Linked DNA regions of Homo sapiens: region 2 is linked to region 1. The links come from fine-mapping of genetic effects on gene expression. A gene starts in region 1. The other region holds a variant in brackets. All regions are shown on one strand. Distances are from middle to middle.

Region 1 (16,406 bases):
AATGTAATGGAGCCATTTGTCTAAGCAACTAATCAAAAAAACTATTGAGGGGGCGTGTTGAGATTGCAGGGTAGGCATCTTAAGAGCTCTGATCTATATTCATACCTTTGGACAAAGAAGGAAACAAAAATTTGGAGGTGAGTCCAGGCAGAGGAGGCCTTGTTGACATTTCAATTCACTCTGATAAGAAGGAAGAAGGCCCAATACTCCTCATTTCAACATTTGTAATGTAATAATTCATACATGTAAGAGTAGATCTAATATATACATGTAGTTTAAAGAGAAAGAATAAGACAAACATACCTCCGTACTCCCACCCAGCTTAACAAGTGGTGCTTTTAGCAGTGTTTTTGAAGTCCCTCTGAGTTCCCATGATCACATGTGCCCTTTTCCTTGAAGGAGGTAACCACTCTGATCTTGGCTTCTCATTTCCATTTTTTTCCTTGTAGTTTAATGTATTCCTGAACAATATATGATTTAGTTTTGAATGATTTTGAATATTTGAGAAGGAATCAAACTGACTTTGTTCTTCTGTAACTTGCTCTTTTTAATGAGCATTATATTTGTGAGCATTTTAATTGTTGTGTAGTATCCCACTGTACAAATATACATATCTCTAATTTATCCATTCTCTTGTTGACGGACATTTGGGTAATTTCCAGGTTTTGACTACTACAAACAGTAGTGCCGCGGACATTCTTGTTCTTATCTCCTGGTGCATAGCAGCAAGAATTCCTCTAGGATACATTCTTTGGAACGGAACTGCCAGGTCAGAGAATCTTCGTCTTTCACAGATACTACCTTACGAAATATCTTTTTGCTTACTTCAAAAGGGCTTGGGTTGCCAGATTTAGCAAATTAAAATGCAGGATGCTCAGATAATTTGAATTTCAAATCAATAAAAAACATTTTAGGATAAATATGGCCTACACAATATTCATAGTTTAATCTGAAAACCCTAACAAGGTCAGTGAACTTTATCAAACCACAAACATTGGGCAATGAAGGATGAGTGTGAAGGGGTGGTGGGGCATTTGGCCTATTCTTCCCCTGCTAGATGGCCAGCCCAGATGTTTATGAGCAGGTTAGCTCAGGGGACTCCAGTGCTTATTAACCAGCTGTGTAGGTAGTTGGTTGGCTCCACAACTGTATGCCAGGCAGGTGCTAGATGTTGGGTATTAACACAACTGTAACCATTACAGAGAAGGGTCCTTGCTCTCCCTAGGCTTTCAGCCAAGAGGGGGAAATAGAGAACAGAGAACAGTACAGCAATGACAAATGTACGATGGGAGCAGTGGTGTGCTGGTGAATGCTTAATAATTGGCTCTGATGGGGAGAAGCAGCTCTAACTTGTAGCTTTTGCTGACCTAGGAGTTATAACTACTCTCACCATGGCTGACTTCAAGCTACAATTGTAACATGTAACATTACTGAATGTGGAGTTGGGAAGCCATGTACATAATCTTCTCCCAGGACATTATGAACAGGCTCCAGTATCCCACTGTATGGGAGTACTCAGAAAGTATACCTCATCCAGTCTCCGGACTCATTTCTTTTTTTTGAGATGGGGTCTCCCTCTGTTGCCCAGGCTGGAGTGCAGTGGTGCAATCTCGGCTCACTGCAACCTCCGCCTCCTGGGTTCAAGCAATTCTCCTGCCTCAGCCTCCTGAGTAGCTGGGATTACAGGTGTGCGCCACCATGCCTGGCTAATTTTTGTATTTTTAGTAGAGATGGGGCTTCACCATGTTGGTCAGGCTGGTCTCGAACTCCTGACCTTGTGATCCACCCGCCTCGGCCTCCCAAAATGCTGGGATTACAGGCGTGAGCCACAGCCCCCAGCCTCTGGGCTAATTTCTTGTTGGTTTGGGGGAAAGGGGCTTAGGTGGCTCAGACATTAATTTTTTCCCTTGAATTTAGAAGTTAAGAGTATAAAATGCATTTTAGTATGTCTATAATATTGGATGCTTTGTAAATATTTTTACTATGGTATAGAAATAGAAAATAGTCTATTAAACATAGTTATAAATTATGATCATCCTATAGATCGGGGCTCAGACCTTCACCTTTTGCATCTGACCTTCCATCAGGAGACCCTTGAAGACTTCTCCTGCATTGCCCTATCACCTGAAACCCAGCTCATTGATCGTCATCATTCATTAATTCCACAACATTGACAGAGCCCTTGGTCTGTACTAGAGGCTTAAGGCCCTGTCCTCATGGAGCACTCAGAACGTTCTCTCTAGTCTCTTCCTGATTCTTTCTAGGCAGGTTTACTACCTTTTACTTGCTCAGTTCATTTCTGTGTTCTCAAGCTGGCTTTCCCTCTGGGAATATTCCTCCATGGAAGATTGCCAGAAAGCTTCCAATGATCTCTTCTTGCTCTTGAGATTTCTTCTTCCCTACAGAGTGGCACGTGTCTCTTTCTGTCTGAATCTGAACTCTTCTGACTTTTCTATATTTTTTCCTATTGTGTAATCTATCACTCTAGCCATCTAATCTTTTTCTTTTTTTTAGATAGAGGTGGGGTCTCACTCTGTTGCCCAGGCTAGTCTAGAACTCCTAGGCTCAAGTGATCCTCCTGCCTTAACCTCCCAAAGTGCTGGGATTACAGGCGTGAGGCACCGTGCCCAGTCTTGATCTATTTTTTTATCGGACATTTTTTGAATGCCCATATACTAGCAAATTTCAAGGTGTGGAGGAGCTTCTCCTTGCCATTTAAAAGTTTTCATTTATTTGACATAATCATTTTATAAAATTATGTATTTGCACAACTTATGTCCAGAGGCCTTCTTTATGCTTCAATTACTTCAATTACTTAAAACGTATTTATTGAACTTTTTCTGAATATAAAAAGAAATACATGATTTGTTTTACAAAATTTGGAAAAGCATACATAAAGAAATAATAACTATGTGATCTCACAGCCCAAGGCTAGTTATTATTAACTTTTTGGGGCACATCCTTCCAGTTTTTTTTCTTTTTAAGAGATGGGGTCTCATCATGTCGCCCAGGCTAGTCTTGAACTCTTGTGTTCAAGTGATCCTCCCACCTTGGCCTCCTGAGTACTTCCAGTGTTTTTGATGCATACTTAGGAATAAATCCAGATCATATCCATTTTTTCACTTACTATAGTGTGAAAATGTTATCTTCTCTGGTATTCTTTGAAGACATGATTTTAAATAATGGCATGACATTCCATTTTCAGGCTAAGCTGCAGTTTGTTTAAATAACTCCCCATTGCCAGTAAAAGCCTTTTTTTTAAAGGTTGGTGAGTGCTGTCTTATCAAAAACCACATGAAGACAGGAATCAAACATTTAATTGTCCTTCTAAGGAAGTATCCACAACAAAAATATAACTAAAGTAAGTTGATCATGTATATGCTGTAATCCTCTAGTTATCATTAAAAATAAACATAGCCAATCTGCATTAAATATAACATGAGTTAGGGTGGACGTGGTGGCTCATGCCTGTAACCCTAGCACTTTAAGAGGCCAAGGCAGGTGTACTGCCTGAGCTCAGGAGTTTGAGACCACCCTGGGCAACATGGTGAAACCCCATCTCTACTAAAATACAAAAAATTAGCCGGGCATTGTGATAGGCATCTGCAGTCCCAGCTACTCAGGAGGCTGAGGCATGAGACTTCCTTGAATCTGGGAAGCAGAGGTTGCAGTGAGCCAAGATTGCACCACTGCACTCCAGCCTGGGTGACAATTAAAAAAAAAAAAAGTACTATGAATTGGCATAAGGATAACTTAAAAACTTGAAGCTCTGGAGAAGGTTGGGAGAAAGATAACCTACCATCATCAAACCTTTTTGGTTGGGCTTTGTTTACCATTTTTGAGAGGAACTGAGCTCTGTACAGTCTCAGAATTGGTAGGAGCTTTAAAAATCACTCAGTGACTCTAACCTCTTTCTCGTAGATGAGGAAATTGAATCAAGTTACCTGCTGAGACTAATACTCAGGTCTCTTAACTTCCTTCCTGTCCCATGTTCTTTTCACCGCAATCTGCTGACTAAGCTTACTCTTAAAAATACAGAAAGAGCATACATTTATCAACATGTCATTACAGAAACTCTGTTCCTCTTATAGTGCATGTATTTAGGTATAAAAATCGAATGGCAAGATCCTGGGTATGTATCCAAGGGAAAGGAAAGCCTATGTCCACAGAAAGACTTGTACATGAATGTTCTTAGCAGCATTATTCGTAACAGCCAAAAAGTGAAAACAATGCAAATGTCCATCAATAGTTTAATGGATAAACAAGTGTGGTACACTCATTCAGTGTAATACTACTTAAAAATAAAAACAAACTATTGATAATGCAACAATGTGGACGAATCTCTCAAAAAAATAATGTCGAGTGAAAGAAGCCAGACAAGGCCTGGCACGGTGGCTCAGGCCTGTAATCCCAGCACTTTGGGAGGCCAAGGTGGGCGGATCACCTGAGGTCAGGAGATTGAGACCAGCCTGGCCAACATGGTGAAACCCCATCTCTACTAAAAATACAAAGTTAGCTGGATGTAGTGGCACGTGCCTGTAATTCCAGCTACTCAGGAGGTTGAGGCAGGAGAATCATTTGAACCCGGGAGGCGGAGGCTGCAGTGAGCCGAGATGGCACTCCAGCCTGGGCAAAACAGAGTAAGACTCTGTCTCAAAAACAAAAAACAAAAAACAAAACCAAAGCCAGACAAGAGTACAAATTGACTGTATGGCCTGCATTTATCTAAAATTCTATGAAATGGAAAGCTACCCATATGACAGAAAGATCTGTGGTTGGAGAGAATGGAAGTAGTGTGGAGGAGGAACCACAAAGAGGAAACTTTGGAGGGTGATAGATACATTCACCATCTTCCTTGTAGAAGTGGTTTCAGGGAGGTATACACATCAAAACTTATCAAATTGTACACTTTATTTTTATTTTTTTGAGACAGAGTCTAGGAGTCTCGCTCTGTCGCCCAGGCTGGAGTGCAACGTTGCGATCTAGGCTTACCGCAACTTCTGCCTCCCGGGTTCAAGCGATTCTCCTGCCTCAGCCTCCCGAGTAGCTGGGACTTCAGGCGCGTGCCGCTACACCCGGCTAATTTTTGTATTTTAAGTAGAGATGGGGTTTCACCATGTTGGCCAGGCTGGTCTCAAACTCCTGACCTCGTGATCCGCCCACCTCGGCCTCCCAAAGTGCTGGGGTTACAGGCGTGAGCCACCGCACCTGGCCAATAATTGTACACTTTAAATATGTGCAGTTTATTTTGTCAATTATACCTCAATAAAGTTGTTTGTGAGATGTCCCTCTTAAGTTTGAAAAGCAGACAAGACTAAAAACTCACTGAAGTATCTAAAGCACAAGGCAACTACAATTACTTCTGGAGATAACTGACAATCAAGGTTCTTTTCTAGTATGATAGTTTATCTGAACAAAACATTACTATGAGAAATGCGAAGTCATAAAAATAAAAAATAGAAACGACATTTTTGTCCCCCTGGTAATCATGCCATTTCCTCTTGTCTGTGCAGTAGCGCTATATCATAATCTTTTTAGTGCTCTATTCAATTTGGTTTTCTAAAGAGAGAAATAACCTTGTTGTACTTTTCCTGAACTAGAGTGCTCTTTTATGTACAAGAAGCCCAATCCCTGGTGTGAGTATACTTGTGTGGGTCTGTAGAAAGCTACACTCTATCTATAAATTTTAGCAAATGCTGTTATTTATTTTGGGATTTTTGTAGTCGGGACTCAGCGGAGACACTAGAAACAAATTATAAGTTTCTAGAAACCATACCTTCTGCAAGATGAACGCTGTATAGTTTTCCTAAATATGTGATTCAGTAATCACATTTTTCATTTAGATTTTCCACTTACTGTTTTAAAACAAAGAATTGCTATACCATACAGTCTACAAAACTGGTAATTTTCAATTTCCTCATTAAAGATTCTTCACTCTTTTTTAGAAAACACGAGAAAGTTTTATTTCCCAACTCTCCCACTACCCATGTTTATTTTCATAGCTCTTTTATTCGGTCATTATTCCCATTCTGCAGACGGGGAGGCGCACATACGTTTTTCTGCACAGTACAGAGGGGCAAGAAAGAAGGAACTCTCAACTTTTCAGTTCCATTTTGAGAAACGATCACATTGAACTCCCGAGAAGCGGCAGCTGAGCGAGAGCAGCAGCATTTCTCCCCGTGTTGGGTGTGGGTCAGGAGAGAGGCGCGCTTCCGCGGGAGACAGGGGGAGTCAGGTGGCAGCGGCGCTGGAGCCCGAGCGGCGCGGCGGGGGCGCGCCTCCCTCCGGCCGGCGCGGGGACGCTGCCCCCGCGCACGCGAGTCCGGCAACCCCGGGCTCCCGCGCCGCGCGGCGATCCGCGGGTGCGGCAGGGGCGCCCCGGCGCTCTAGTCTCTTCCCTCGCGCGCTCGCTCCTTCCCCATGCCCCCACCCCCCAGCCCCTGGCAGGTCCCTCCCCCAAGCCTGCTCCCGCGGCCGCCGCTGCCGCCGCCGCCGCCGCCGCCGCTACCGGAGGCGCAGGAGCCTCGCGATAGTGTTTGCACAGGCGGCGCGTGACGCCGCCGCCGCCTGTAACTGATGCAGAGGTTACCCCACCGCCTCAGCCGCCACCCACAGCCCGCCGCCGCCGCCTCCCGGGCGACGCCGGGGGCCGACGCACTGCAGAGGTGCCGGCAGGTTCCGCCCGCGGAAGTGTCCTCGGCCGGCGCAGCCCGCGCTCCGCCCGCGCTCCGACCCCGGCCCGGCTGGCACCCCCTCGACGCCTCCGCCGCCGCGCTCCTTTCCTCCTCCTCTCCTCTGGCGCGCCCGCTCGCTCCCTCGCTTCTCCCCCTTTCCCTCCTCCCTGTCCCCTCTCCTTCCCTCACCTCTTTCCTCCCCACCTCCCCTCTTCTCGGTTTCCTCCCCCATCCCCTTGACTCTCCCCTCCCAGCCCTCGCTCTCTCGCTCGCCCTCAGCGCGGCCCCCGCCATGACGGAGGCGGGTGCCGGTGCCGTTGCCGCCGCTGCCGTCGCAGGGGGGGAGTCGGGTTCCCAGAAAGTAGCTTGATGAGTGTCCAAAGTAGCAGTGGAAGTTTGGAGGGGCCGCCATCTTGGTCCCAGCTCTCCACGTCTCCAACCCCGGGCTCGGCGGCGGCGGCCAGGTCCCTGCTGAATCACACGCCGCCATCCGGGAGGCCCAGGGAAGGTAAGCACCGCCGCGCCCGCGCCCGCTCGCGGGCCTCCTCTCCCGCGCCGCGGACCCCCGCGCCCCCCCCCCGCCCCCCCCGCCCCGGGGCTTCTCCGCCAGACCCTGGGGTGGGGGATGGTGGCGAGGTGGACGCGAGGCCGCCCGGCTCCCCGGCTCTGGGGAGGTAGTGCCCTGGCTGTGGATGGTGGTTCGCGGGTGGCGGAGGAGACGGACGAGGGGGTGCGCGCTGGTGGGGACGGGGCGAGGCGCATAGACTCGCCTGGGGTTCCTGGGAGCCAGTCCTGCGAGGGTGGGAAGCCTCCCCCCAGACGCGAGCCCCTTTCTGCTCCATTTGCCAGTACACTCAGTACTCTTAACCTCCTGGCCTCCGGTCTCTGGTGGGTTTTCCCTCCCGCTGGAGCCTTCGTCCTCGAGCCCCCTCCCCTTCTCCCGCGCACTCCTCCCATAGAGGCGGTCCCCACTTTGCGAGCTTTGCTGCCCGGGACCTGGAGGATGCCCCTCGCTTGCTGGGTTTCTCCTTTGGGGAGAGACGCTGAAATTATCTGGGCAGACTTTGATCCCCTGTGTGGCCCCCTAGAGCAATTTAAACGACAGACTGACTCGTGGGCAGGCTTTTAAAACCGCCCCTCCAGATGGTTGCAACTTTCTCTCCTTCGCCGTTGCTTCCTGCGTGTTTGTGCGTTATATTCTCTGCTGCAAGTAGGCTACTGTTCTTCTGTGACAGGGTCGTGGGTTTTGTGGGAAATATCTGCGTAAAGGTTATTGCAAACACGCACCAAATCGGTTACAATTGTTTTCTAAGTTTTCTGGCTTCTTGCAAGCAAGTGGGCTGCCACCAGATGTAGCAGTTACACAGCTTGTAAGGCACCGGCGTGCTTTTGACTAAAATTTCAACTTGCTGTATCTAAGTATACAACATAAAATGAAATTTGGGAGAAAACACATTTATGGGGAATGAATAAATGTGCATGGAATGTCTTTTAACGCTCTTTAGTCTGGAAAAAGCTTAGCGGTATTCATCCGCAATTGGTAGACGGGCTGTTCACTCCTAGTTGTCGCACACGAGGAGATAGGCACATTTTCAAATGTCTGGAAGTTCAACCGTCTAGTGAATGTTTTAAAGAAATCAAGAGCTTCGATTTATGTAGGAATCGGTGCGAGTACTTTATTTTGAAAATATCTGTCGATATTTGCTAGTCAGAGCCTTGACAAGTGTTAATCAAGTGTTTTGTGCCCTGAATCCAGTGGTTCAGGCATAGCATTCTTTGTCATTTTGTTCCTGTGAGCATGTGTGAAAGTGACAATAGGCTTAAAGATTGGCATGAATATGCTCTAGAAAATTCACGGAAAGCTTTGATTTATGGGATCCATTAAACATGCGGAATACATTGACAGACGTTTCCCCCTTTCATCTTATCCCAACGCTGAGCTTTCATTGTTAGAATATAGAAGTTTATTTATTAAATGACTAGAAATTTAGTATATCTGGTGATTCTTTTGCACTTGAAAATTTTTAAATGAACGGTTTAAAATGTATTTCATAGAGAAGTTGATGCTTGCTTTTAGCATGCTTTTACTTTTGTTTGTAGTTTCATTAAGATGTTTAATGTTAGTGTTATGAGTTTAAAAAGACCATTTTATTGTTTCTTGTTTAAGGCTATATCATCATTCATTCATTCATTCATTCATTCGTTTCTCGAATATTTATTGAGCCATTACTGTGAGCCAGGCCGTGAACTGGATACTGAGGACATAGTGTTGAATTATCTCTTGATATCTGTTATCAGTATTGGGAATTTGGGAGACAAAACATCTAGATTGTGAGTTTCTGAGGTTACTTCAACTTAAAAACATTCTGCACTTTTCCTGATGTTTGAAAATTTGGAGGGGTTGGAATCATTTAGCTTGAACTTCCAAATAACCATAATTTTTTCCGGCAGTTTAGATTACAGTGGGTTTTTATGTAACCTAAAGTAGTGAGTTTCTGTTAATTCATGAAATCATAGGACAGGCTTTTGTGAAAGTTACACTTCACACCGAGTACCTGTATAGCTACAGGGGGATATTTCTTTTTGACCAACCAGCATGCAAGTTGAAACTATTAATCCTCTCTAGGGTTATATTCATTTTGAAGCTTGGCGATGTGTTCTCAGATTTCACTAACGCTAACAGGAATATGAAGCCCTGAGTGTCAAAATGGAGATGATTTCTATTGAGCGAAATCTCAGTTTTTATTTTAAGTGTTTAGCACCTTTTCCAGGTATACATGTTAGTACATTATATAAATTGATGAAGTTTTAGAAAGCTTTTTAACTGCTAGTTACTGCTAGTAAGAACCGTTAATATTAATGGAACTTGAATGTATTGTATGTATCACGGTGAAAACTAACTTTGTTTCTTGAAAAATTGAGTCAGTTTAACATATAGTAATAGAATAATTGAAACTTAAAAGAGATACACATGTATGTGAACTTACATAAATATTCTATGTGATGAACTCCTTTTAGGCAGACTTAACTTTGAAAATGGGTTATTTTTAAAAATATGCCATAAGCATCTGTAAAAGTTACTTATTTTGAAGTTTTGACATTTGAAACCACAAACCTAAGATTATGATCTGATTATTTTTGATGCTGTATGTTGTAGTTTTGTTTCTTTTTACCTTATTACCATTATCATATTCACATAGTTTTATCACAAATAAAATACAGCTCTATAAGATTTGGGAATCTATTAGAATTTAGGAAATTATGTGATAAATATAGTATAGATTTCTTTCCCTCGGGTCCCAAAGCTTTTCGCTTGTCAGTCTTGTGGTTCTGTTAGAGGAGTTCAGCGATGTAGCTCTAGATTTTCTGTTGAATCTTTTAAACCTATAATCTCCATCCCATTTTGTCTTCTATAATCCTGTGATTAAGGGAGTGACGAGTTAAAAAGGTTTTCAAGTAAAGGCCAGTTTTGCTTTGTTGAAGTCTAGGAACCTAGTGTCATATTGGCTAGATAAGTAGTTGGGTTTTTTTGCATATCAGTACATGGGTACTTTTGAATGGGTTATTGCTGAGAATCAGATGATTGATTATATAGAACACTTGCATTTTCTTTCCTGCTCCAACCTGCCAATTATAAATAATTTGCTTTACTTTTTTGTAAATAGTGAAAGCTTGGTCAAAAAGATTGTATGGGCCAGGAGTGGTGGCTCAAGCCTGTAATCCCAGCACTTTGGGAGGCCTAGGCAGGTGGATTGCTTGAGCTCAGGAGTTCAAGACCAGCCTGGACAACATGGTGAAACCCTGTCTCTACAAAAAATAGAAAAATTAGCTGGGCATGGTTCAGGAGGCTGAGTTGGGAGGATTGCTTGAGCCTGGGAGGTGGAGGCTGCGGTAAGCCTAGATAGCGTCATTGCATTCCAGCCTGGGTGACAGAGTGAGATACTTTCTCAAAAAAAAGATGGCATGATAGTTCGATTAAACTGTAAACTTCCTCTGTTTCCATATTTAAAGACTGCATTCCTTAGAAGAATTAAAGTAATTGACTTCAGATGATTTAGTAATGAGATGTTAAAAACGAAGGTGTACCAGATGGCCCTGTAGGCCTTTAATTTTTTGAAATCACTAGCTGGAGGAGGACAGGGTTATGTGTTTAAGGATTCTAGCTCATGAATAGATATGTGACAGATGTCTCCTTTACAATGGCACATTTACATATTAGAGGAGAGAGATAAAAGAGAGAAACCAGAACGGAGGTTTGAAAATCTTATGAGAAATAGACTATGCTTTAGCCTTTTGGCCTCAGGGCCTCTTTACTCTCTTAACAATTATTGAGGACCCCAAGAGATTTAGGTTTATGTAGATTATATCTACTAATATTTGCTCTTTTAGAAATTAAATGACAATTTCAAATATATTTATTAATTTAAACTGTGTTGTAAATAGAATTTTTTATGAAGAATAAATATGTCCTAAAACCAAAGAAACTAGACCAGTGGCATTGTTTTATATTTTTGCAAATCACCTTGATTTCTGGCTTACTTGGAGAAGACAGCTGGATTTTTTGTCTGCCTTCAGTCTGTTATGATGTTTTGGTTGAGATATGTGAAGAGAATCCAGCTTCATGTAGATATATGGTTGGAAAAGGAAAGAGTGAGTATTCTTCTTTGGTATTACATCAAAATTCAACAAGTGGCAGTTTTTTGTTTTTTGTTTTTTAAGTTACTGACAATGTGAAAGCATATTGTATTCCAAAAATGTCTCTAGGACCTACAGGAAGTCTATGGAAGATACATTTAAAGAAGAGACTAACGGTTGGGAGACGTGATAGCTGTCTCCAGGTATTTAAGAAACTTGGATTTCAGTAAATAGGATTTAAAAACCTGTTAATTTTAATAAATAGGAGGGAGAATAGATCCATTCTCCTGCTTTAGAAGGCAGACCAACGGGTGAAAATTAGGAAGACATTGAGGTCAGTCTAATTTTTTACCAGAATGTAAGAACTGTATGACAACTAGACTTGGAACAGTGGAACAGTGGAGCAACAATGGAACTCGCAACAGCTAACAACAATGGAAAGAAGTAGTTAGTTTTGAGAATTTAAAGTGGACTACAGGGACATATTTTTTGGGGAGGTGGAGATAAATTCTGTAGATTCTTACGATGAGTGCTATTGGATTAGTGACTTAAGGCTTCATCCAATTTAAAAATGTAAACATTCTGTGATTTTTTAAAAATCCCTAAATATAGTTAAACTATACTTATATATATTCATTAACGTTTTTGAATGTTCTTGCAAGTCAGTAGTATGAAACTACTGTTGTTGTTGACTTTATTACTATTTTGCATTTTTATTGTGCTTTTCCTCTGAGGATTTTTCTGTCTTTTCTTGTGTCAGCAAGATCAGTCTTCATGAAATCTTGCTAAATTCCCTGTGAAATATAATAAGCTTAAGACATTTTAGAGAACCAAATGCTGTTTATGATACAGTTTAGTAGAGTTGTAATATATTTCAGCACAGAATTTTAGAATACTATGGGGGCTGATTTTCAATTTTGTAAGAGAAATTATGAGCATAGTTTATATAGTCTTTTATTTGTAATTGTTTACGTGATTTCAGAAGTAATATGCTTAAGTTATTCTAATGTTTTTAAAGCTAGAGAGTCTGAAAAGAGGGAAGAAGAAAGAAAAGTGTTTAAATTGATCTCTTTTGAATTTAAAATGCATATTAAGTATAACTAGAACATAAAATGAAGAATTTAAATTCTCATCTTATTCCTAGAATTATACCTATAATATGTATCATTACTTATAACAATTCATATTTTAATTTTGCATGGCACATAATCTCTTCTGTGAGTTGGATTTTTAGGTGGTGGGAATTTAAGCATAAATTCTCATAACTTTCTTGGGGTCAATTTAATATTAATAAGTGTAGTAAGTAATAATACCCAGCTTGAGACCTCATGTACTTGTTGCATTTGGATTTAAAGCTCATTTCCTATAGAAGAGCTGTAGAAATCAGTCATGTAGTTTCATAAACTCCTTCATGCTTGTTAATAATTTTCAAGAATCTTAAAATAAATTACAGGAATATTGTTATGAAGTAGTAGAAGCAGTATGGTATAGGGGAGAAAGTGATTGTAGTTGGGATCTGAGGATAGTCTTTACTTTGCTATTAACTAGCTGTGTGACCTTGGGCAAGTTGCTTATCTCTGCTTCAGTTCCATAAACTAAGAATTACAGAGCTGAACCGGATCTTGGAAGCAATCTAGTACAAACCTCTCATTTTACAGATGAGGAAGCAGATAATTTGCACAGGCTTTCACTGTAAGACAGTTGGGCCCAAAATTCAGTTTTCTGACTCTCAGGTTGGTTTTTTTTTTCCATTATACTTTACAGCCTCTTTTCATCTGTAAAATGAGAGCATTGGATTAGAGGCTCTCAAAGGTCTCTTCCAGCTCAAAAATATTGTCATTCCTGTGACATTAGTCGTAATATAATTTATTAGGGGAAAGTTTGTAGCTTTTATTTATTGGTGAAAGAAATGTTTCTTGAAGAGGCAGTATAACCTTTGCAAGGTTATATTTTGTTTTTTTAAGAGAATATCATCAGGCGAGGTGCTATGTCTCAGGCCTGTAATCCCAGCTTTGGGAGACCAAGGCAAGAGGATTGCTTGAGTCCAGGAGTTTGAGACTAGCCTGATCCTGTCTCAAAAAAAAAAAAAAGTTAGCTGGGTATGGTGGCATATGTCGGTAGTCCTAGCTACTGGGGAGGCTGAGGTGGGAGGATCCCACCTTGATCCCAGCAGTTCAAGACTGCAGTTGATGCAGTGAGCTATGATCATGCCACTGCACTCCAGCCTGGGCAACACAGTGACACCCTGTCTCAAAAAAGAAAAAAGAAAACATCTTCATTAATACCAAAGGGTATTTAAGTTTATGAGCATGGTAAGTAGTGTGATAGGTAGTCTTGTTTTTTGTAAAACACTTATTAATATATTAATAATATAAATTGCGTAAATAACAGTGTGATACCCGGAAGTGAAGTAAGTAGGTGATTGTTCCTCAGAAAATATTGCTGGAGTTTATTTTATCTGGGACCCCTGTGTCTGCCCCTAGTTAAGTGCCTGTGTTGTTTAGTGTCTCACAGGATTGTCTGTTTCCATAGCATCTGCATCATGCTACTTTTATTATAGTTTTATTTATATTGTCTACTAGACAGAAAGGTCTTGAATTCAGAGACTATATTTTGTTCATTTTCGTATTTTCAGTGCACAGGAGGACATCCTCTACAGAGTTGGCACTCAACTAAAAGTTTTGTCAAAGGACTGTTTCACATACATCATCTCTCTATATATCATGGTATGCACATATTTCAGACCCAGGAAGATGCTTATTTTAGTAATTCTTAAGTGAACTATATTTTAGAGGGTGATATGGATAACAGTAACAGTAATAGCTAAAGTTTATTGTGTTCGCACATGTTAATTCTTATATCTCATAACTCTGAGTTACATACAGTTGTTATTCCCATCTTCAGATGAGAAAACTGAAGCACAGAGAAGTAAAGTGACTTACCAGTGTGACCTAGAGTAGTACATGATGGGGATTTGAACCAAGTTGGTGTATTTTAATCACTAGGATATATTGCCTAAAATATGAAAATTTGGTTTTTAGTATTTTAGTAGTTTTTCCTAAGCAGATTTTAACTTACTAATCAGACTTCCAGGCTTATTCATTTTACTTCTAAACTTTTGTTAACTTTTTTTTGCATGAGTTTTTATACACGTGTGAAGATAAGATTTAAAAAAATACAAAAACCCCAACCAAACAACCCAATTTAGAAAGCTGTACCAGCTGTGCAAATCCTACACTTCATTTTTTTAAGATAAGTTTTGTCCATTCATGGAAAATGTTAGAGATACATCAATGAAAAATTTTATTTCCATGTTAGATAATCTAATTTGTAATTCCATTTATCTTGATATTTTGGCCTCATAAACCCACTGGAGCCATAACAAGTAAATACTAGAATTTGAACAAAAAACTTCCCACTGTCAGTATCGGAGCAGTCTATTTATTGTGGAGGCTTTATAACCTGATGGACAAGGCTTTAAACTAAATTATAATGCTTTAGTGGCAGATCTTTGACTCTGTTAATAGTATTCAGTATGGGCAAGGGGAAGAGGATGTGCAGTCTAGCTAATCTGTAAAAAAGTATTTTAAAAAAATACTTAGTTTTAATTCTTTTATTGCTAACAACAACAACAACAACAACAATAACAAAACCTTTGGTAGCATGTATTATATAGCAAACCTAATTGAGAGGCAGGATTTGAATGGATTGATAGGAATTTATCAGTCATGGAGTGGAAAGATATGCAGAGCAGAGCAGATCCAGGTGGTAGGTTGTCAAACTTGAATTAAATTTTTCCAATGTGGCTTCATCATTAGGTCTGAAATTTAATGAATTTCAAGAAGGCAATTTAACCTGTATTTAAATAAAAGTGATTATATTCTACATAGATTCATTAGCCAAATATAAGTATTTTGGGGGGATGACTTAAAATATTTTTTCCTCTTCATCTATGTGGATTGTTAAGAATTGGTTATACTCATAAATTTGTGCTTTTCCTTGAAAACTAATTAGCTGGAGTAAATAAACTACTAGGTTTAAATTCTTGCTGTTAATATGATAAGTTGTGTGACTTCATGATTCCCCACTGGACACTTAGGTAAGTGCTTCCTATCTGAGGATGAATGTAGTTCCTCTGGTGAAGGTCAGAGGGGTTTGTGTGAGGCTAATCATACTCATCCTGTCTCCTAAGACCAGAGACATGTTTTACTTTTTTCCTTTTTTGATACTGTATATTTGCCTCATAAAAAATATAAAATTTCCCTTTTCCTTGCCGATTTCTTTTAAACATCTGTGTAAATATGTAGTTTAGTTCAACTTTGTATACTACTCTGTTACTTATTTCATTTACTTAAAGATACTTATTTCATTTACTTAAAGATACACATGGCTGGGCGCGGTGGCTCACGCCTGTAATCCCAGCACTTTGGGAGGCTGAGGCGGGCGGATCACGAGGTCAGGAGATCGAGACCATCCTGGCTAACACGGTGAAACCCTGTCTCTACTAAAAATACAAAAAAATTAGCTGGGCGTGGTGGTGGGCGCCTGTAGTCCCAGCTACTCGGGAGGCTGAGGCGGGAGAATGGTGTGAACCTGGGAGGCAGAGCTTGCAGTGAGCTGAGATGGCGCCACTGCACTCCAGCCTGGGCGACAGAGCAAGACTCCGTCTCAAAAAAAAAAAAAAAAAAAAAAGATACACATATTTATTAATGCTGGACACTATTCCCGGCATTTGTAAATAGTAATTCATTTGCTTCTCCTAACAATCACATGAAGTCCTGTTATTATCCCGACTTTATAGATGAGGAAATTGAGGCATAGAGAAGTTAAGTAATGTATCCAAGGGCCAGGCACAGTGGCTCATGCCTGTAATCCCGGCATTTAGGGAGGCTGAGGTGGGCAGATGGCTTGAGCGCAGGAGTTCGAGACCAGCCTGGACAACATGGTGAAACCCTGTCTCTACAAAAATATACAAAAATTAGCCGGGCATTGTGGTGCACGCCTGTAGTTGCAGCTAGTTGGGAGGCTGAGGTGGATCGCCTGAGCCCAGGAGGTTGAGGCTGCAGTGAGCCGTGATTACGCCACTACACTCCAGCC
Region 2 (16,406 bases), 130 kb before region 1:
GTTTCACGATGTTGGCCCGGCTGTCCTCGAACTCCTGGACTCAAGTGATCTGCCGTCCTTGGCCTCCCAAAGTGCTGGAATTACAGGCGTGAGCCACTGCACCTGACCTCCATTTTCCTCTGGTCTTTCAGAGAGCCCAGGCAGAAGCTATTATCATCAAAGGTAGGTTTAAGATTAATGAGTCTCCCCTGCCAGCTGGGTCGCACGTCTCCTGAGGACATGCTTTGCTGTTTGTGATCACAGGTGAGTAGATGAGGGTCTCCCTGTAAGGCTATGTAAACATTTACATATTTACTCATATTCTTCATTTTCATCCCAGAAACTAATTTTTAGCAGATTTAAAGCAGATTTTTTAGTCAATGTTAGAAAACATTTTTTAATGTATGAAAGTGAAATTCAATGTAATTAATTTATTAAATCATAATTGAATTCCTGCTGTTTCCATCACCGGAAAATGACTACCACGTTTTCCATTGTTATTTGAAATACTCGTCTTCTTTATAAATATTTTGACATTTTTTGAAATGCCAAGAATATGCATGGTGTGTGCCATGTAGTCAAGAATTAGTGCTTTTGCTTTGGCATAAAGCAAATTTCAGGTGGGGAAAGGAGGCAGTTGATAATGCAGATTTTAAAAAGTAGAATTAGGCTAAAATAGTTATTTTTATTAACATAATCTGCTTCAAGATAGGGTCCTAACAACTTAATTTCTCTGCAAGAAATGTACCCTAAATGATTGTGGGTCACTTTTGGAGTTGAAAATTCTGGCTCCTAATTAAATATGTGTGATTGAGCAAGTCAGTCTTTTTCTGCCTCAGAGTATTTATCTGTAAAATTAGGAAGTTGCACCAAGAGTCTGATAAAGCCCCTTCCAGCTCTAAAAGTCAATGATTCTATGAATGCTCAGCTACATTCTGTATCACCAAAAGGTAGAAACGGTATCTTCTATTTTTTCCTAACTCCCGATTTTGCCATCATATGGAAAACAACAAAAATAAAGGTAATTAAAAATAGGAAAGAAATGGACTTAAAATTATGCCATCTGACGTCTCAGGCATTTTCATTTTATGTTCCATTCTGGTCCTTGAACATATGTATACATAATTTTACATAGTTCCAATCATAAAATAGGTAAAATGTTATATTTGGCCTACTTCACTTAACATTATGTAACTTTAATATTATCATTATCACTGATAATTATAGTTTAAATGGCTACATGGTACTCCATTTCATTGATGTATCATAGTTTACTTTAAAAGTCCCTATATTTGGAACTTTAGACTGCTTTCAATGTTTGATACCATAAAGAAGCTACAGCAAATTTTTTATTCATATGGCTCTTTCTTTTGAATAACTTTCTAAGAATAAATTTCTAGGAGTGTAATTACTGAATTAAAGGGAACCTCTTTACCATTGTTTATAAGTATCAGCAAATGGCTTTCCTGAAAGCTTACACTGATTTACATTGTTGCCACCATATCTGAGAGTGATAGTTTAAGCCTCCCCAAAGGTGCGGTATGAAATTACTTAATGTTTTAATTTACATTTATTTGATTACTGGCAATCTTGAACATTTTTTCATTTGAGATTGCATTTTATCTTATGTGAATTGTCTGGTTGTGCCCTTTTCCATTTATCTGACTGTGAAACCATAGGTGAGTCACTTAACCTCTCTGGGGCTTGGTTTTCTCATCTATAAGCAGGATAATAATAATTTCTATCTCAGAGATGTTGTATGGATTTCTCAATGTAAAGTGTATACAATAGTACTTGATATATGGAGAACCTTTTAAAAAAAGTACTAATTGTATTAGAACATTCCTGATTTTCATTACAATTTATGATTTCCTCTGGTCTTTGTATAAATGCATAATATCTTTGATTAACTTATAAGGCAAATCTTTATATAACATAGATGTAATCATTTGGTCTGCTGGGTTTGGCTAAGTGTCTTTCTCTGTTGTTTTAATTTCTGTATTGGTTTTGCGTGTATGTTCAGACATGCACATATGAGTGTACGAGTATGTATTTTCTCACAAGTCCAGAAACACAGAGTCTATGCCAAAGGGGCAGCTCATAAAAATGCTGACTGCCTGACAGTGCTCAGAATGGTGCAGTCATCTCTGTTGAATAACTGTTCAACCAAATCGTTTAGAAAAATAACAAACAAGCAAAATCAAACCACATACATACACACACTCACAAAACCAAAACCAAACCCAAACCATGCACATACACACATGCACATTACAAACAAATGTTTTAAGCCAGAGAGATAAAAGAAATTGTAAACCATATAAATTATTTCTCTTTAAGAATAATTGATTTTGTTGTTGTTGTTGAGACTGAGTCTTGTTTTGTCGCCAGGCTGGAGTACAGTGGCGCGATCTCGGCTCACTGCAACCGCTGCCTCCCGGGTTCAAGCGATTCCCCTGCCTCAGCCTCCTGAGTAGCTGGGACTACAGGCATGCACCACCACGCCCAGCTAATTTTTTGTATTTTAGTAGAGATAGGGTTTCACCTTGTTGGCCAGGATGGTCTCGATTTTCTGACCTCATGATCCGTTCGCCTCGGCCTCCCAAAGTGCCAGGATTACAGGCATGAGCCACCGCGCCTGGCCGTAACTGATTCTTTATATATAATTGTTGCCTAATTCCTAGCATACTGAGATCCTATTTATTTATTTATTTATTTATTTATTTATTTATTTATTTATTTTCTGAGATCTAATTTAGACCATGGAGAAGAAAAACAAAAAGGTGGTATTAATAAACTGCTTTGGGGAGTAAAAGAACCTCTTAGAATCCACGACATCATGGATGGAAGAGATCCTTAAGGAGGGAATGAAGCACAGCTCAGAGTGGGAAGGTTAGCAATGTTCAAGACCAAAGTTAATCATCTCTACATGAGTCAATTGAAAGAAAAGAATTAAAAGCATTAAAAAAAAAACAATATGAGTAATGGGAGGAGCTGATGAAGCCTGCTGCCCAGATGAGGATTGGAAACTATTTAAACTGGATAATACAGTATGTGTTTTAGCTCTGAGAAAACAGAAGTTGAACTTTTGAGTAGTAATCAAGGGCACGGTCTCAAAGTATTTGCAAATAGTGCTGGTATGGAGAACAGATGCCGACATTATTGCCAATGGGAATCACAATGTGATAGTTGGAGTGAGAGACTAAAAGAAACCACAGGGAATTTTTGCAGAAAGCTTGGCATTGAACATGATTTATGGTTGATTTAAGAAGGAGACAAGGAAAATAAGGCTACAGTGTATACCATCTGACTGCTGCGGACCAAGGATGTAAACAGTTAGCCATGGCTCTCCAACCTCCTGGAAATCAGGATTCTGCTCATACAGAAAGGCGCCAGAATGTTTGTCTGAGTTAAGTGCATACTTCTTTTTTAGTATCTAAGAATAGTTATCCTCCTTTCCTCTCCCATTACTGCTTGGGTATCCTTAAAAATCCTCACCAGCTATTAAGTATCATGGAGTTACGCAAAGAGGTCTGCAGGGAACTTGATGGCTTCCCAAAGTGGATCAGAGAACCTCACAGGAGGCCCTAGGCTTGAAAGGTGAGCAGCTCTATTTTGTTGCTCTCATGTGTGTGATGTACTTTTATGTTAGAAAACTGAGGTTTGGAGGATTTAAGAGAGTGAGGTGAATCTTCCAAAAATATCTAACAAAGTATGCTGAGAAGGTAAGTTAGAGCGGAAAATACGTGACCATTCCTTGGCCTTGGGTCACTTAAGTTATAACCTCCCTTCAGAGAGTAGAGAACAAACATTGCCTCTGAGACAAAAATAACTTCTTTTTTGTTTGTTTGTTTGTTTGTTCTGAGAGAGGGTCTTGCTCCGTCACCCAGGGTAAAGTGCAGTGGCATGATCATGGCTCACTGCAGCCTCAACCTCCTGGGCTCAGGCAATCCTTCCACTTTAACCTCCCAAGCAGCTGGGACTACAGGTGCATACCACCACGTCTGGCTACTTTTTAAATTTTTTGTAGAGACAGGGTCTCCTTATGTGGCCCAGGCTGCTCTCAAAGTCCTGTCCTCAAGCCATCCTCCCACCTTGTCCTCCCCAAGTGCTGGCATTATAGGCATGAGCCACCATGCCTGGCCAAAATAAGAACTTTTTGAGCTATTCTATAGGGCGTCTGAGTTTTGAAACGGGAAAAGAGAGCTATATTTGACTAAAAATAGTAGGATTTTCATGTGAGAGAGACAATCTAGAGGGAGGTCAGTGCTGGTCCTCAAATCCTTGGGACTACTAGAGAAATGGGCTCATATAAGGGGAAAAGATGAAAAACAATAACAACCAAAATGTTGCCAAAGGTTAGAAACAATGAGCTTTAATACCTGGCCAGTGACAATGCTTTCTGAATAGCAAAGGAGACAGATTAGATGAGGAAAATAAGGTTAGGCTTTGTGCCCAGGAACCTGAGCCACTGAAGCCTGTCAGTGGCCAGAGTTCCATTACCTTAGGAAAATGGCTCCAGGCTCTCTCAGTATGTCTGTTTATAGGCATTCTCCCCGCATTCATATCTCACCCTTATTTCCTAGTTGTGTTTCCTTTGAAAACTTATACTCCTCGAGCCTGTGCTAAGACTGCAGAGGTCCATCCAAACCTGGACCACAGTAACTAGCGAGATCCAAGTGCACCCTTGGTGTGCAGGGTGCCTGTCTCAGGAGCATAGTCAGAGAACAGCTGATACAGCGAGGGTAGATGGAAAGGTGAAGATTATGTCTGTCTGCCTGCATTGTCCTCTCCACCCTCTTGTTTTCTTGGCAGAATCCTTGATCATTCAGGATCTGCTCAAATGTTAATATCTATTATCTCTCTGTAAACCCCATTGATGGAAAGAGCTCTATTCCCACAGCATCTTGTACACAGCATTAATTATGCATTTGCTGCATTATTTTCTAATGGTTTGTGTGTCCATCTTTCTTACTGGACCATCAACTCTAAGATGTTAGGGACTGTATTTTGCATCTATCTCCAGCCCTAAATCAGTATCCAGAACTATATTGTGCCGTATGGTAGCTGCCAGCTACATGTGGGTATTGAGCAGTTGAAATGTGATAAATTCCAACTGAGATTGTTGTGAGTGTAAAATACACATCAGGTTTTGTCAACCTAGTATGAATAAGAGAATGTAGGCTGGGTACAGTGGCTCATACCTGTAATCCCAGCATTTTGGGAGGCTGAGGCAGGCAGATCACTTGAGGCCAGGAGTTCAAGACCAGCCTGGCCAACATGGCAAAACCCTGTCTACTAAAACTACAAAAAATTGGCCAGGCATAGTGGTGCATGCCTGTAATCCCAGTTACTTGGGAGGCTGAGGCTCAAGAGTCACTTGAACCTGAGATGCAGAGGTTGCAGTGGGCCGAGATCACACCACTGCACTCCAGCCTGGGCAACAGAGTGAGACTCTGTCTCAACGAAAAAAAAAAGAGAGAGACAGCCGGGCGTGCTGCCTCAGGCCTATAATCCCAGCACTTTGGGAGGCCGAGGCGGGTAGATCACCTGAGGTCAGGAGTTCGAGACCATGCTAGCCAACATGGGGAAACCCCGTCTCTACTGAAAATACAAAAATTAGCTAGTTGTGATGGCAGGTACCTGTAATCCCAGCTACTCAGGAGGCTGAGGCAGGAGAACCACTTGAACTCAGGAGACGGAGGTTGCAGTGAGCCGAGATCTCGCCACTGCACTCCAGCCTGGGTGACAGACAGAGACTGTCTCAAAAAAAAAAAAAAAAAAAAAAGGGAGAGAGAGAATGTAAACTATCTCACTAATAAATTTTTATAATGATTACATGTTACAATGATAATGTTTGGGATGTATTGTGTTAAATAGGATATATTATTAAAATTAATTTTATCTGCATCTTTTTACTGTCTTTCATGGCTACTAGAAAATTTAAAAGTATATATATGGCTCCTGTTATCCTTTTATTGGGCAGGGATGGTCTAGAACATAGTAGAGGCTTGAGTCAGGGTCTTAGCAGGCAAAAGAAAATACATTCATTTTGGATTTTGAAGAGATGTTAATGAAGGGGCAGTTTACAGAAGTGTGGGCAAGGTTAAGGAAACCCACAAAGGATGCTGAAGCACCAAAAGACTAGCAAAAGAGGGGAGCAGTTAGCCTACAAAGGAGAGGAAAAGCCGTTACTAGAGCTGGTGAGCACTGGAGGTGCCTAAGAGGAGCACCCAGCAGGAGCTCCAGTTCCCGTCACTGCCAGAACCATGCCTTGCTCCCACTGGCTGTAGGGAATCAGAAGCTGGAAGGCAGAGATCCTGGATGATGCAGCCCTTAGGGGACCGCTCCCACCACCCTGGGCAGAGAAGAATGGAGAATAGGTGAGGGCAGGAGGAGAGCATGGGATAAAGAGTAATGAGCACAGAGCTCAGTACATTTGTTCAGTGAATGAATGAAACGAAACTAGTCACTAAGGAGAGAATGGAGGACGGTGGAAAATTAACTTTTTCCCATCTGGAATTATTTTGCAGTAGTGCTTTTCAAACTGTTCTGTGACACTGAAGAGTTTAGTGAAATTATGTTAGGGGTTCCACAGACATTTCTTTCTTGTTCTAAATATGTATATTTCTAACTATTAAAATACTGTCCTTGAGGATGGGCGCGGTGGCTCACATCTGTAATCCCAGCACTTTAGGAGGCCAAGGCAGATGGATCACTTGAGGTCAGGAGTTTGAGACCAACCTGGCCAACATGGTGAAACACCATCTCTACTTAAAATATAAAAATTAGCTGGGCATGGTGGCACATGCCTGTAGTCCCAGCTATTCGGGAGGCTGAGGCAGGAGAATTGCTTGAACCTGGGAGGCAGAGGTTGCAGTGAGCTGAGATTGCAGCACTGCGTTCCAGCTTGGGCAACAGAAGAAGACTCCATCTCAAAAAAAAAAAAAAAAAAAAAAAGAACTTCCCTAAAGCACAGGAACATGCACATCCAAACGTGTTATATATCAAAATTTTTAACATATGGGAAACAGGTCACACGTCAACTTGTGCTGCCAGGTGAATTTTTGTGCAAGCCTAAAAACAAGAGTTCCTCCTGTCTCTTTTGTGCTTTTATTTGAACATCATTTTTTATTCTTTTAATTTTTCTAGTCAGTCTCTGCTTATCCATTAATTGAATATCTTAAACGTGTCACTAATTAATTTTTAGGTCTGCATTAGTCTTTTAGAAAAATTCAGGTCTACACGTGTCCGTTTATATAAAATTGCACACATTTGTATACCATTGTAACACATGGGCACAGGTCAATTAAATGCTGAGCAATGTTCAGGAATGTGTATTTGACACGTGTTCATGTCTCATCATGTATCTCACTTGCTATCATGTTTATGTAAAAATGATACATTCATGTTAAGGAATTCTACAATAGCGGATACTGTAGGAATTCAATCTGAAATGCATTTCTGGCTATTTGCATTTGATGTTCCCTATGCCTTGAAGATATTTCCTTCAGCTCTTGGTAAGGCTGAGATTAAGATGTTCCTTAGTTCTATTTATCCTTTTTATCCTTTAGCTTTTAGCTGAAATGTTTCCTCCTTGGGAAAGGCTTCCCTGACCACCTAATCACTTAAGTAGGTTCCCCTCCCCATTCTCTCTTTAAGCCTTATTTCAGCCTTCATAGCACTTATCACAATTGGTAACTGTTTTACATAATTACCTCTTTATTGGTTTTCGCCTGTTTCCCTAGCAAGAATTTAAATTTCATCAGTGTAGGGATGGGGTCTCTACTTAGCATGGGTCAGGGACTATTTGAGCTTTACCCATATTCATTCATCTACTCACAATCACCTTGTGAGGGCCCCTTTGAAAGACAAGGACACCGAGATGCAGAGAGGGTAAGTGGCCTGGTCAAGGTCTCCTAAGCTATTATATGAGAGAGCCAGGATTCAAACCCAGGAATCAGTGGGGGCCCAAGAGTACAGCAGCATGTTAATATTAAAGGCTTCCAGCTCCAGGTCACGAAGTGCTAACAAAAACACCGGATTTTTTTTTTCTTTTCTTTTTTTTTTTTTTTTTTTGAGATGGAATCTCGCTCTGTCGCCCAGGCTGGAGTGCAGTGGTGTGATCTCCACTCACTGCAACCTCCGCCTCCCAGGTTCAAGCCATTCTCCTGCCTCAGCCTCCTGAGTAGCTGGGATTACAGGCACCCACCACCACGCCTGGCTAATTTTTTGTATTTTTAGTAGAGATGGGGTTTCATTATGTTGGCCAGGCTGGTCTTGAACTCCTGACCTTGTGATCTGCCCACCTTGGTCTCTCAAAGTGCTGGGATTACAGGT[G/A]TGAGCCGCTGTGCCTGACCAGGCTAACATTTTTTGAAAGCTTCCCACGGTGCTGGGTTATGTGAATTATTTTTACTATTACAATAATCTTATGAGGTAGGTACTATTATCCCAATTTACAAATGAGTTGAGACCTAGAGAAATTAAGTACCTTTCCAAAGATCACCCAGCCCAAAAATGGCAGAATGAAGATTTGAACCTATCCTCCTAACCATCTTGCCCTATCACCTGCCTGGAATTCCAATTCTCCTACACGCTACATGGTACCTTGTGTCAGACCATGCGTGGACATCGATTTCTCATCCATGAGTTGGAAGAATATGTATTTGCTGGGCCAGATGCAGTGGCTCATGCCTATAATCCCAGCACTTTGGGAGGGCAAGGCAGGTGGATCACCTGAGGTCAGGAGTTCAAGACCAGCCTGGCCAACATGGTGAAACCCCCTCTCTACTAAAAATACAAAAAAATTAGTCAGGCTTGGTGGTGCACACCTGTAGCCCCAGCTACTTGGGAGGCTGAGGCAGGAGAATTGCTTGGGAGGTGGAGGTTGCAGTGAGCTGAGATCATGCCACTGCACTCCAGCCAACAGAGTAAGACTCCATCTCAAAAAAAAAAAAAAGTATCTGCTGAGCACGTCTGTGTTCTCTGGGTGGAGAGCTGGAGGGTGGGTATATGTAGATGAGGTGTATTAGCAGAGGTCACCAGGAAACCTTTTGCTCATTCTAATCTAGTCCTGTCCTCTCCAAATGGTGTTCTTCTTGGGCCTCCCAGTTTAACATTGTCATTTCCCTGTGGAAATGCTGGGAAACACAATGTGTGGAAATTAAACAATATACTCCTAAATAACCCATGGGTCAAAGAACAAAGAAGAAATCAAAAGAGAAATTAGAAAATAATTTGAGAGGCAAAAAGTACTTTGAAAAGAGGAAAAATGAAGACACAACATACCAAAACTTAGGGGATGTAACTGAAGCCTCCTGTGTACAGAATAGAAGGGACTTCAAAAAGTTCATGGAAGATTATTAAATTAAAAGATAAAAATGAAAAATATAAGCTTTATTTTTCAACATAAGCTTCATCAAGCCGAAGACACTTTTGTAAACAATGATACCAGCCATTTAGTCTTTTCCTAAAGAACGTAGGGTCCTGGGAATGTAACCACGTCAAGGCAGTCTTTTTTTTTTTTCTTTTGAAATGGAGTCTCACTCTGTCACCCAGGCTGGAGTGCAGTGGCATGGTCTCCGCTCACTCCAACCTCCACCTCACGTGTTTAAGCAGTTCTTCTGCCTCAGCCTCCCAAGTAGCTGGGATTACCGGTGTGCACCACCATGCCTGGCTAATTTTTTTTTTTTTTTTTTTTTTTGTATTTTTAGTAGAGACAGGGTTTACCATGTTGACCAGGCTGGTCTTGAACTCCTGGCCTCAAGTGATCCACCTGCCTCAGCCTCCCAAAGTGCTGGGATTACAGGCGTGAACCACTGCACTCGGCCAGGGCAATCTTTTTTGCATTGTCAACTGAAGAAAAATGGATGCACTGTAAAGGATATTTTTAATTTTTATTTTTAGAAGCAGGGTCTTACTCTGTTGCCAGGCTGGAGTGCAGTGGTGAGATCATAGCTTACTGCAACCTTGAACTTCTGGGCTCAAGCAGTCCTCCTGCCTCAGCCTCTCAAGTAGTTAGGAGTACAGGTGCATGCTGCCACACCCAGCTAATTTGTTAAATTTGTAGTAGAAATGAGGTCTCACTATGTTGCTCAGGCTGGTCTCGAACTCCTGGCCTTAAGCAATCCTTCCCCCTCAGCATCCCAAAGTGTTGGAATTACAGGTGTAAGACACCAGGCTCAGCTAAAGACTTTTTAAGATTATGAAACAGAAAGAATTTCAGGGCTGGGCACGGTGGCTCACCCTGTAATCCCAGCACTTTGGGAGGCCGGGGCAGAAGTATTGCTTGTGTCCAGGAGTTCAAGACCAGCTTGGGCAACATAGAAAGACCCCTACTGATCTCTTTGGGACATTGTTTCCATAAACTTTTTGTAAAGCATCAATGATTTCACTATTTTTCTACACAAACCATAAATTTGATGTTGGTTTTTTTTTTGTTTTTTTTTTTTTAGACAGAGTCTTGCTCTGTCCCAAGCAGGAGCACAGTAGCGCTATCTCAGCACACTGTGACCTCCACCTCCTGGGTTCAAGCAATTCTCCTGCCTCAGCCTCCCGAGTACCTGGGATTACAGGTGTGTGCCACCATGTCCTACTAATTTTTGTATTTTTAGTAGAGACGGGGTTTCGCCATGTTGGCCAGGCTGGTCTGGATCTCCTGACCTCAGGTGATCCGCCCACCTCAGCCTCCCAAAGTGCTGGGTTTACATATGTGAGCCACTGTGCCCAGCCTTAACATTAGTTCTTGCTTCAATTTTATTAATAGCAGAATTCATGTTGCTCTGATGGGGGCTCTTCTCAGACTGATGTCTTATCCTTCTTAGTGCCCCAAACTAGATCCTGTTCAGACATGCCATAACAAATTAGTATGAGTTTATTTTAGTGCAAACATTTTGAATTCTCTGCATAGTTTTTTGATAATACACATTTTCCATGAATTTTTTTGAAGAGCTCCTCATACGTGTGTGTTTAACTTATTTCTATCTTCTCTTTCACATGATTCACTTTTTTTAAAAAAAATCTATTTAAGCAGCACTTACTGAAGGCCAACTCTGGGCCAGACACTGTGCTGAGATTTGGAGACACGGATGACCAGAACACGGTCACAGTCCTCTAGGGATGCTAGGCAGATGGAGCACATAAACTAATGATTACACCAATTAGTTGGCCAAGGATTTGAACCAGGATTCTAGTCAGCAGGACCAGAGGAAAGATACTACCCTTTTGACCTGTTACTGTCTCATTTTGTCTTTTATTGTATCTTCCTCCAGCTTTCCTTTTCTCTCAAAGACTTTCTTTTCTGGCTATCTCATGTTCCCCTTTTTCCCTACTTTTTAATTATTTATACAGCCAATTCCAGGTGACCTCTTTTGTGAATTTTATACAATTAATGCTTGGCCCCCCAACTGCTGGAATCTGGATTTAATCCTCCACCATCTGCCCCCCACTCCCCAGAATGATGAATGCTCAGGGAACAGGGATTAATTGTAACATTAGCCTAAGGAAAGCTGAACTAGGCAGTCATTAGTTCCTTACCACTCCCTATTTCCTTGCTTTCCACAAAATTTAGGATTTCTTCCCAACCCACATAGAAATGACTTTTTAAAAAAAATTTCTCAGTTCTCTGCTCCATCTCCATTGGCACAAACATTACAAATAGATGTCTTGTGACTTCTTTCCTGCTGTCCCTGGAATTGTGGAATGTTGTTTTGAAATTCTTCTTTGGATTTTTGTATCCAGAGTTATATCCCCAATTCTTAGCATACTGCCTGACACATAATAGGTTTTCAATAAATATATGTGAAAATAAATGCAAAGTGAAAAGAGAGAAAAATATTAGTAGATGATTTTTGCATGAACAATGTTGCTATGTTTTTATTTAGAAGTTTATGCATCCATTTGACCCCTAAATTATATCGTCCTCAAGAATAAGGGGACTAGTTTTTCTTCTTCTTTATATTCTCTCCTGCCCTGTGCCTAAAATAATACCTGATACGGCACAAAACCATAATCTATATTTGTTGAATGAAGAATAAGTAAAGACTAGACAGTTGATATCTGTGATTGATGTGGATGAGGATTTATATTATTAATGTTGTCTTAACTATTTTCTGGAACAAAGTGTAAATAACTTGGGTAAATAAACTATAAATGGGATTAGAAGAAGGTCTTGGAGAAGAAACGTCATGGGTGGCACTAATGCTGGGGGAGCCCCCGCTTACGATGGGTGTGCCTGCCGCTGTTTCACTCCCCTGGAGAGAGAACTCTGGAGATGGCTTTGCACATGGAATGGGGGTACAAGAGTGTGAACACGTGGCTGTGGGATTTTAACATAGTAATTGCCTTCCAAACACTTGAAAAAGACTTTTCTAATCCTATTCTATTGCTATTGCCTCTGTGTTTTCGCCTCATATCACATTTAAATTCTATGACTTGTCCAGTTAATGTGGACATGCATAACAAGTGGGCCCAGATCTTATTCTAAATGGAAGCCAGAGCCACTGTCCAGACACTAGGAAAGCATAATTACCCCAAGAGCAGAGTTGTGTTTTCTGAGAGGGCTTTGAGCAGTGTCTATGGAGCCCCAGATGTAAATTTCCGCATTAGACAAGTAAAAAGATTTATGAAACACGTTTCTCCTCTTTCTTGGAGAAAAAAAAAAAATCTTCTCTTTTGCGAAAAGACTTAGTGTTTGAGTACTTCTTGACCCTTAAGGGAAAGGAGGAAAATTATATCAGAAGTCTATGCATGCTAAAATAACATTCATTCAAAATGAGGAGTGATTGATTCTTTCCATATGTTCTTATCCTATTTCAATTTAAATTAATTTTGCAGGAGTCATTAACTATCTCCACAAAATTTGCTGGATTTTCTCCGAATGCTGGCTTTGGCACACCTGCAGCCAGTGCATGTCTTTATGGTTAATCTGTAGGAACCAAAATTAATTTCAGTAAAACAGCTAAATGGTCCTCAAGAGTCCTTACTCATGTGTCTGGTTAGCATTCACCAGGGGCAGTAAACACAGCCTGACAAGGGTGATAGAAATGTTTCAAGGGACCTTTCCAAGTTTTCTCACTATCTTTTTTTCTTTTTTAAATTTGCAGGTGCAAAAATTCCATTTATAATTCTTTAATTCCAAGGGCAATGGGTATCTTGGGGTCTCAGATTCAGGACAAGTGGCCAGCTGGGACACAATATTCTGCTTGCAAGTCATGGCAGGTGCAGAAGGAGGGCAAGCCATTAAAAGTTTGGCCTGTTCTCCTTTTCTCTCTTTTTGTGCTTCCTTTTCCTCTTCTAGACGGGTGTACAATTACACGAGCTGAATTAGTTATCTCCCAAAGCTGTGCTGTTGTACATCCAGGAAAAGGACTTGATTACTCAACCCATGGTTCCAGGAGCCTTATTTGGGTTCTTTTGTGCAGCAGAAGAAAAAAGTGCTGAGTGCACCCTCTATTTGTTTTGCGATTTGCCTGCTGGGCACATTACTTGCTATCACTCTGGTTTCAATAGATGTCTTTCCACGGAGATTTTAGGATGTCTATATTTAGAAAACAATAAAATATGTATAAGATGGAAAAATTAGGGGAAAGCAGAAGTGTGCTGAGGAGGAGAGAAAAGGGCAAGAGACAGTCATGGATCCTTCTCATGACAGGAGCTGCCCCTAGCATCCAGGCTTGACTTCTTTCTTGCCTTGCCAAGTGTTCCACTGTGCAATGTGGAGTTATTAAGTGTGGAGATGAGGGGAGGAACAAGAGACAAGGAAAACCTAGCTCCAGTACTCTGGTGTCTTTGGAGAGAGTTTTGCCAGGGCATGTACTGGACACAGTGTGAGAATCCAGGAAGGCAGAGACATGTCAGCTGTGAGAAGCATATCCATGCAGTTATTATGGCCACATGTAATCTTTGCTGGGCTTTGTCAGCATATGAGCTGCTGATGAGGATGACTTCTTTCCCAACCAGGAATGGTTTGTATGGCTTTTCTGCAAGCTATTGCTGGGAGTTTAGGTTTGGGGATTCCTGAGGTGGGTGTAACTAGAAAAGGCTCTGGTTTATCTTCACTCAGACTTTGATGATTTGAAAAGATTAACAGGCAAAATACTCAAAGATTAAAAACAAACAAATGGAAAAAGAAAGGAAGGATGGAGAACTTGAAAGCAAGGAAGAAATGACTTTTAGATGGTCTAGTCTCTTGTCCTGTGTAGCTATAATGACTTCATTGCACATGATCTCAGATAGTAGGTTAATTTGGTTCTGGGCCTGGTATATGTTTGTTCAATTTTATGTGGTCTCCTTAATGCTGTATGGAATATTGTAAATTTGTAGTTATTTATTTATGTATATATTTACTTACTTATTTAACTGTACACCTAGCATAGAGACACAACTAGTTGGGTACTTAACAAATAGATATATGAGTTGCCATAGCTACAAACTACTACTAACAGTAGGATGTTCATAGCCATTTTCTTTTTCTTTTTTTTTTTTTTTTTTGAGATGGAGTTTTGCTCTTGTTGCCCAGGCTGGAGTGCAATGGTGCGATCTCAGCTCACTGCAACCTCCACCTCCTAGGTGATTCTCCTGCCTCAGCCTCCTGAAGAGCTGAGATTACAGGCGCCTGCCACCAAGCCCAGCTAATTTTTATATTTTTAGTAGAGATGGAGTTTCACCATGTTGGCCAGGCTGGTCTTGAACTCCTGACATCAGGTGATCCACCCGCCTCAGCCTCCCAGAGTGTTGGGATTACAGGCATGAGCCACCACGCCCGGCCCCCATTTTTTTGATATTAAAAATGCAATGAAAAAAACAGAAGAAAGGGTTTATTTGGCCAAAAAAACCATAATGACTTTAAGATGTATAATTTAACACCAATTTCTTCCTTAAAAAGTTAAAGGCCTGTGATCATTTTAAGTGATATGATTAGGAGAAATAAAATTGTGTGATGAAGTAGCCACTATCAGGTTTCAGCTGCCTGGTTAGACTTCACCACAGGACTAGCCCTGTCTCAAAACATCAGATTCTGGTGTTGTGAATAAGAAAGTATCCCCCAGTAGTCCATCCTTCTATCAGGGGAAATAACTTTCCTCCAGCATTGAATCACTTTTCTAGGTAGAAAGTTTTGGATATAACTCCTTCTGAAATGTTCCTCCCCAGGCCAGACCCCTGAACTTTCCTGAGGAAAGGAAGTGGCCCACAACCTATCTCTGCCTCATGGTCTCCCTGCAGACTAGAAAAAAGAAAATAATACTATCAGAAAACTTGAGTTCCACTCCTGGCCCAGCCACTCTTGTGCAATGTAGAAAAATTAACTTCATTTCCCTGGACCTCAGGTCCTCATGGATGTAAAGAAGTGTGCTACTTGCTCTGATACTTCAAAAGACAGTTTACAGAGTAGCAAATAACGTCATGAAAAGAATGACGGCTTTGGAGTCAGCCAGATCTGGTTCATTCTTCAACAAATCTTTATTTAGCATCTACTATATGCCAGGCGCTATTCTTGGTGCCAGATGCTGCCTACATGAAGCTCACATTTTAATGTGGGGACCAATACTAGTTTGTGGCCTTGGGCAAATCATTTAGCCCCTCTAAGCTTGTTTTTTCCACCTGTAAAATGGACATTATAATAACATTTCAAGATGCATTGTCAGGATTAGATACAATGATATTTAAAGCACCTATTATACACTAGAGGCTCAATGAATGGTATGTAAATAATACTATACGATACATGATAAAACACTTTTTTCAATTGTACGATTCTATCCAGATAGGCAAATTATTATTTTTTCATCTCTGTACTGTGTGACTCTAAAGCCATAGATAATCACAAAATTACACTGCAGATTTAATAAATTTACTTCTCTTTACTGCCTTAAAAGCAACTTCATTTATCAAAGAAATATTTTTTGAGTCTCTACTATGCATTAAATACTAGGCTGGCACTAGGGATATGGAAATAAATGAGACTTCCCTGCCCTTACTTAGGATCATAGCAGTAAATGTTTGGATTTCACCAGGGTCCTCACTTTTGGAGAGCTTATTCTTCTAGAGTTTGTATTAGTTATTGACTGTTTAGAAAGAAATCAAGAAAGGAAAACAACCCTCTAATTGGCAAGTGGGTTAAGCTAAAGTTTTCTTAGAGAGACCTAAAGCTGTGTATATAAGACCCCTGGCAATCTCACTCTACTCAAAATGAAACAGATAGGAGAACACATCTTTCCTATAGATGCCTTAGAGGTAAAATTTCAATCTACCAACATCTTTTGCAACAAAAGAAAATCAATTAAGTTATTTACTATACCCAGCCATGTGACCAGTGTTGTTACACATATTTCAGAGATATAAATGAAAATAAGGAGATATTCCTGGAGCTCAGCAGGAGACATGACACCTGCCCTTGAGGCAGGAGGTAGAATGTGTTCATTTATTTA

What was found.
Region 2: its variant is fine-mapped to the expression of TLK1 in whole blood (INTERVAL, PIP 0.97).

Annotation. Positions count from the first base shown.
Region 1 is chr2:171,151,066-171,167,471 of GRCh38, reverse strand. TLK1 (tousled like kinase 1) reads left to right here and starts at 6,579. Exons shown (of 21, transcript NM_012290.5): 1 at 6,579-7,182. The coding sequence starts at 7,044. RefSeq lists silencers at 5,989-6,048, 6,179-6,898, 7,169-7,408 and an enhancer at 6,763-7,407.
Region 2 is chr2:171,284,768-171,301,173 of GRCh38, reverse strand. It overlaps LOC105373737 (a long non-coding RNA gene), which reads left to right and starts at 34. Exons shown (of 3, transcript XR_923573.3): 1 at 34-162. The variant G/A (reference allele first, on the strand shown) is at 8,320.